Linked DNA regions of Homo sapiens. The protein of the gene in region 2 purifies or fractionates together with the protein of the main gene of each other region. This does not show direct contact. Each region holds a gene or a part of one and is shown on either strand. Other genes may lie near its edges.

The links.
Region 1: the proteins of ARHGEF10L (region 2) and COP1 purify together in Homo sapiens (co-immunoprecipitation; 2 studies listed by BioGRID and IntAct, with this or other methods). This does not show direct contact.

What each region holds. Positions count from the first base shown.
Region 1 is NC_000001.11:175,948,787-175,952,286, forward strand, and holds part of COP1 (E3 ubiquitin-protein ligase COP1), read right to left. Parts: intron 1-3,500. UniProt on the Homo sapiens protein: E3 ubiquitin-protein ligase that mediates ubiquitination and subsequent proteasomal degradation of target proteins.
Region 2 is NC_000001.11:17,542,698-17,546,197, reverse strand, and holds part of ARHGEF10L (rho guanine nucleotide exchange factor 10-like protein), read right to left. Parts: intron 1-3,500.

The DNA of each region.
Region 1 (3,500 bases), about 160 Mb from region 2:
AAGAAATAAAGACATGTGGGCATGGGAATTGTTGATCTTTTCCTAGCTGAGGATTTTCCTTAAATTAGCAAATGTTCTTAAAAATAGTAACATGGGGGCTGGGCGCAGTGGCTCACACCTGTAATCCCAGCACTTTGGGAGGCAGAGGTGGGCAGATCATGAGGTCAGAAGATCGAGACCATCCTGGCTAATATGGTGTAATCCTGTCTCTACTAAAATACAAAAAATTAGCTTGGCGTGGTGGCGTGTGCCCGTAGTCCCAGCTAGGCAGGAGGCTGAGGCAGGGGAAGTGCTTGAACCTGGGAGGCACAGGTTGCAGTGAGCAAAGATTGCACCACTGCACTCCAGCCTGGCTGGAGAGACTCCAGCAAGGCTCCGTCTCAAAAAAAAAAAAAAAAAAAAAAAATGAACATGGGTAATACAATACTCACTATTAGAATTAACTTTGGAATATTATGGGCTATTTCTGGGACTTGAGGTATACAGAATCAACACTTCCATATTCGGGGTGGGGGGCTGGGGTGAGGGGAAAGGAAGATGAATTTGGGATTTATTTACTCTTTTAGTGACCTGAATGTAGAAAGTGGTTGGAGTAGGTTCTGGATGTCCTTTAGGAATATAATAACTTACCCTGAGTTGGTTAAGAGACAGCATTTCTATGCTGGCCTCAGAAAACAGCAGAAAGAGGCACTGTGTGGTGCAATATGGATTTCTTTCTAGCAGGAATTTTAAACAAGTTGTATGGTATCAGAACTGCCACTGGTGACCCACAAATAATTCTCCTGTAAACATCATCCAGAAAAGCAGTTGAAAATCTCACTGATCAACCTAGTTGCCATTCAAGGAGGGGACAGACTCTGGTCTGCAAGAAAGCTACTGCCAAGAGCCACCACCACTAAATGCTGCAGCCATCATGAACTGCTCCCTTTGCTATGAGAACAAATAATGACAGGACAATGAAAAATTTAAAGCCGAAAGCTCCATCTCCTTCTGCCATTTTGGGTCTAGTCACCTTTTAATATAGAGAAGGAATGCAGAGACCTGGTGAAGATGAGGATTCACTTGGGGATAAGCAGGGAGTCTACTTCTGGCAGTTACAGGGATTATAAATTACATAATTGAAACTTCTGACTTCTGATGGGAGCAAAACTAGGAAAATTGTAGTATATTATCTTACAGTATGAAAAATTAGCCCCAATATAAATAAGATAATCTAGTTGGATTACCACACAAGAGGAGTTTAAAATATGTACAATTACCACTCTAAACCCAAGAAGGACATCTGATAACTATCCAACATGAATAAACACTGTCTTACTGTAACCTCAGGATTACTATGGCATTAATATATGATGTCATATTAGATGCTATCCAAGGGTTAACTCTTAACACTATTTCCTGCAGAAACAGATAAATACTTTATGTGTTAAAAAAAAAAAAAGTCAACATACGAATTGAATGCCAGTTTGAATGGTCTTTTAGGACTGAAATTTAATGAAAGAAAAATAATGGCTTCATATCTCAGTACATCCTCTCTCCCCAAAGGTAGTATGATTACAAAAAAAGTTATTTAGAATTAAACTATCAGATAGCTAGATATTGGCTTAAGATAAATTATTTTTTTTTTGCATGCAACAGAAAAATAAGACCAGATATTTTACTTCTAGCATAGAGATGTGGAAGTGGTACGTACAAGGTTATTAATGTAAGTTTTTAATGGTTCTTGATTGTATTTTGGATGACTGGTAATTCCTAGTTGTAGCTGTGGTCTGCTAGGGCCTACTATAAATAAGTTCTAGCTCAACAGGTTATTTTTTACTTGCTAAATAAAATAAAAGTGTGAGTCAGTAATTCTTATTATTTTCTCCCTCTTTTTTGGAAACCGGCAGTTTTACTGCAGAACTCTCCTCAAGGCTAAGCTAATAAAATACCCAATATTTTTTTCTGACTATGAAGAGACTAAGAAAAGACAACAGAAAAATTAGCAAGTCTTTTATAAAAACAGAAGACATATAAACATGCACCAACTTGCTTAAGTCAGTGATACTACACTAACTTATACCAAAACATTTTTAGTAGCACACGTAGGCTAGTGAAGAAAACCTGCATCTACTAAAATAGTTTTATCTTTATTGACTTGCTTAAAAAGGGTCATTATAGACAATACATTAAAAATCTGGATGGCGCTGTGGGTCACACCTGTAATCCCAGCACTTTGGGAGGCCAAGGCAGGCGGATCACCTGAGGTCGGGAGTTTGAGACCAGCCTGACCAACATGGAGAAACCCCATCTCTACTAAAAATACAAAAAAAATTAGCCAGGCGTGGTGGCACATGCCTGTAATCCCAGCTACTTGGGAGGCTGAGACAGGAGAATCGCCTGAACCCGGGAGGTGGAGGCTATGGTGAGCCAAGATCATGCCACTGCACTACAGCCTGGCCAACAAGAGCAAAACTCCATCTCAAAAATAAATAAATAAATAAATATATAAAATATAATAAAATAAAATCCTGACAAGTTGAGAAATGAACAGTTATTCACTCAGCAACTGGTGGATTTATTCATAGAGATAGATGTAACTGATTTTAAATGTAAATTAATTTTAGTATAGGTATAAGTATATACAATGTATTTAAATATAAGATACGTGAATATATATATATATATATATATATAAAAACTTCCATTTTTGGCCATAACAGAGTAAACAGACTAAATTTGTTTTCCTACCATATACAACTGGAAAACTGAAAAAAATATGTAAGATACCACTGGACCACAGGCAGTACAGGACTGTGATCTTTGAGAGAAAAGAAACAAATGAAGTGAGTCCTATAATCACCCTGGTTTTCTACTGAGAGGCAATTTCTGGACCACAAAGCAGGTAAGGAGATGGACATAACAACAGATGAGACAAGTGAGGAATAAAACATCAAAAAATTTGGTAACACCTCCAAAATTACAACTGAAGCAGACAGGAAAAAAGCATGAGAGGAAAAAGAGATTAGCATCTCAGTGACCTATTGGGCAATATGCAACCTAATAAATGTATAATTGGAGTCCCAAAGAAGGAAGAGAAAAAAATATATGAAAACGTTAAGACTAAAATGTTTCAAATTTGTAAACTATAAACCCACAAATCTAAGAAGCTTAACAATTTCTGGCAGAAAGAAGCACAACACCACATCAAGGCACACCACAGTTACACTGCTGAAGACAAGAAACAGAGAAAATCTGTAGAAATGCCAAAGAAACAAAGACACATTACATAAAGAGAAAGATCGCCAATTTCCCATCAGCAAGAATGCAAGCCAGAAGACAATAGGACAGCATCTTTAAGATGACAAACAAGAGGCCAGGCGCAGTGGCTCACGCCTGTAATCCCAGCACTTTGGGAGGCCATGGCAGGCGGATCGCCTGAGGTCAGGAGTTTGAGAGCAGCCTGGCCAACATGGTGAAACCCCATCTCTACTAAAAATACAAAAATTAGCTGGGCGTGG
Region 2 (3,500 bases):
AAGCTTCAGGGACAGCAGGAAACTACCAAGAAACCTCAAAGATTTTTAGGGAAGCAGGGTGATCCACACAGCACAAGGCCCCTGACAGGTGAGGTTTGTCAGATTTCCTTTGCTGGCACCCAGATGATGCTGTGCCTCCTGACTTGAGGAAGGTTCAATGCTTCCCCTACTCTGTTTCAAGCCCTGCAGACTTTTGATTCACCTGACACCAGAGCCAGACTGAACTCTCAATAATTCATGCCTCTGAGCCTTTGCACATGCCATTCCTTCTGGGTGGAGAAAACACACATTAACTCCCCTGGGTAGAAGGAGCAGCATGTGCAAAGGTTCAGAGGCATGAATTGTTCCCCTCTCCCTACCCCATTCCCCTGCTACACTCCGCACATCCCTCCACTGTATGTAACATGTGCACATGTCCATCTTCCAACCAGAGATCACAGGATGTACAAGAGCAACCGTCTGCCTCTACTCTCTCATGCAGGTCCTGAATCCATATGGACAGGTCATGCCCACTGTTGCCTATGTCAGCTCTAGCCACCCATGTCCTGGACATCACAACTCCACAAGCCCCAAGCTACTTAATTTGTCCACGGTCTGTCCTCAGACACCACTGCTGCTTTTCCTCCCAGATGCCTGAGTCATCCTGAATAGGGTTACTCAATGGCAAAGTCAGCTCTCAATTAACTGAATTTCCTCCTTGTCCCATTTCCTCTCTTCCTGGTGCATGGTAACAACTCACTTGCTGGAATGGAGAGCTCCTGTGATTTGAGGGCAATTTACAACCTCTATCACCAAAGCAGGCCCTGCCCAGCAGCTGCCCCTCAGCAATGAGGACACTAAGATCAGTCCTGGAGCGCCATCACACCAAAATGTAAGTTCAAAGGGAGGGACTGAGTTGCTCATTGCTGGATTCCCAGTGGTGTGCTGGTAAACAGGCTCTTCAGGGGAAAAGATTCTGATTTGCAGTGTTTGCCAATTTCTGTGATATAAATACTCTCACTCTGGCCAATTTCAAGCTGCCAATGTGACATCACTGAATGGAGTTGAGATATGCAGTAGCACACCACTACGTACATTACACACACACCCACACCCACACTCACACCCCTTGATATGGTTTGGCTGCGTCCCCACCCAAATCTCATCTTGAATTGTAGCTCCCATAATCCCTGCATGTCATGGGAGGGACGTGGTGGGAGGTAATTGAATCACAGGGGCAGGTTTTCCCCATGCTGTTCTCATGATAGTGAATAAGTCTCCCAAGACCTGAAGGTTTTATAAAGGACAGTTCCCTTACACAGGCTCTCTCGCCTGCCACCATGTAAAATGTGCCTTTGCTCCTCCTTCGCCTTCTACCATGATTGTGAGACCTCCCCAGCCATGTGGAACTGTGAGTCCATTAAATCTCTTTTTCTTTACAAATTACCTAGTCTCAGGTATTTCTTCATAGCAGTATGAAAATAGCAGTATGAAAAAGAACTAATACACTCCCCAACGCACACACACACAAAGCAGCAAATAACCACAAAAGCACAGGTAATAATAGAATAAAATAATTAGGAAAAAAATTGAGTATTTATTACTTTATAAAATATAATTTACAGGCTGGGCATGGTGGCTCACGCCTGTAATCCCAGCACTTTGGGAGGCTGAGGTGGGCAGATCACCTGAGGTCAGGAGTTTGAGACCAGCCTGGCCCACATGGTGAAACCCCGTCTCTACTAAAAATACAAAAATTAGCCGGGAGTAGTGGTGCACGCCTGTAGTCCCAGCTACTCGGGAGGCTGAGGCATGAGAATCGCTTGAACGTGCGTGGGAGGCAGAGGTTGTAGTGAGCCGAGATCATGCCATTGCACTCCAGCCTGAGCAACAAGAGCCAAAACTCCATCTCAAAAAAAAAATTATTATATATATATATACACACATATATATGTATAAAATTTATGGCCAGTCACAGTGGCTCATAATTGTAATTCCAGCACTTTGAGAGGCTGAGGCAGGTGGACCACCTGAGGTCAGCAGTTCAAGACCAGCCTGGCCAACATAGTGAAACCCCATCTCTACTAAAATACAAAAAATTAGCCAGGTGTGGTGGCAGGCACCTGTAATCCCAGCTACTGTAATCCCAGAGGCTGAGGCAGGAGAATCACTTGAACCCAGGAGGTGGAGGTTGCAGTGAGCAGAGATCACGCCACTGCATTCCAGCCTGAGCAACAAGAGTGAAACTCCATCTCAAAAATATATAATAGCAGCCAGGCGCGGTGGCTCATGCCTGTAATCCCAGCACTTTGGGAGGCTGAGGCAGGTGGATCACCTGAGGTCAGGAGTTTGAGACCAGCCTGGCCAACATGGTAAAACCCCGTCTCTACTAAAAATACAAAAATTAGCTGGGCGTGGTGGCAGGCACCTGTAATTCCAGCTACTGAGGGGGCTGAGGCAGGAGAATCACTTGAAACCAGGGGGCGGTGGTTGCAGTGAGCTAAGATTGTACCATTTCACTCCAGCCTGGGCAAAAGAGTGAGACTCCATCTCAAAAAACAAACAAACAAACAAACTATATATATATAATTTACTTAATGATGAATGTATACACTCAAAAAAAATTTTTTTTTTTGAGACGGAGTTTTACTCTTGTCCCCCAGGCTGGAGTACAATGGCACAACCTCGGCTCACTGCAACCTCCGCCTCCTGGGTTCCAGCAATTCTCCTGCCTCAGACTCCCGAGTAGCTGGGATTACAGGCATGGGCCACCACACCCAGCTAATTTTTGTATTTTTAGTAGAGATGGGGTTTCACCATGTTGGCCAGGCTAGTCTCGAACTCCCGACCTCAGGGGATCTGCCTGCCTTGGCCTCCCAAAGTGCTGGGATTACACGCATGAGCCATCGCTCCTGGCCTCAGAATTTTTTATAATGGTTGTGTTTAACAACCGGCTCATAAAATTCCTAAAATTTAGCAATCAGCTCTTATGTGTAGGTGTGAGCTGGCTCCCAACTCACCACTGCCCAGGACCCGGCAGAGGCTCTGTAAGGACCAGTCACTCCTGGGAATGTCATCAGACCAGGGTCCTGAATGAAAATGGCTCTGATGCCCTCCACTGAGGTAGAGAGAAGAAGAACTCTCTGGGACACTGCAAGGAAGGAGCTGAGCTGGGCCCAAGGTGGCACCATGGGGCGGAACAACTCTGGCACACTCAGTTGTTAAAGAGCCTGATTCTCTCCTGGACTTTAGACCCCTTGAGGGCAAGAACAGTGGCCCATTCACCCTTGTCTAGCCGGGTGACAGGAATACAAAAGGCACTGGAGACAGTTGTGCAGAAGAAAGCAAGGACTGAGTGGCCAGGGAGTCCCAGGCTGAGTGCTGGCGCCTTCGCTGACTCGCTTCAGCAGTGACCTTCGACAGTCACTTAAATGCTGTATGCTCAGCTTCCTCATCTGTAAGATGGATATGAACCCATCTCCCTGCCTAACTACTAGGGTGTTGTCAAAACAAAGAGATAG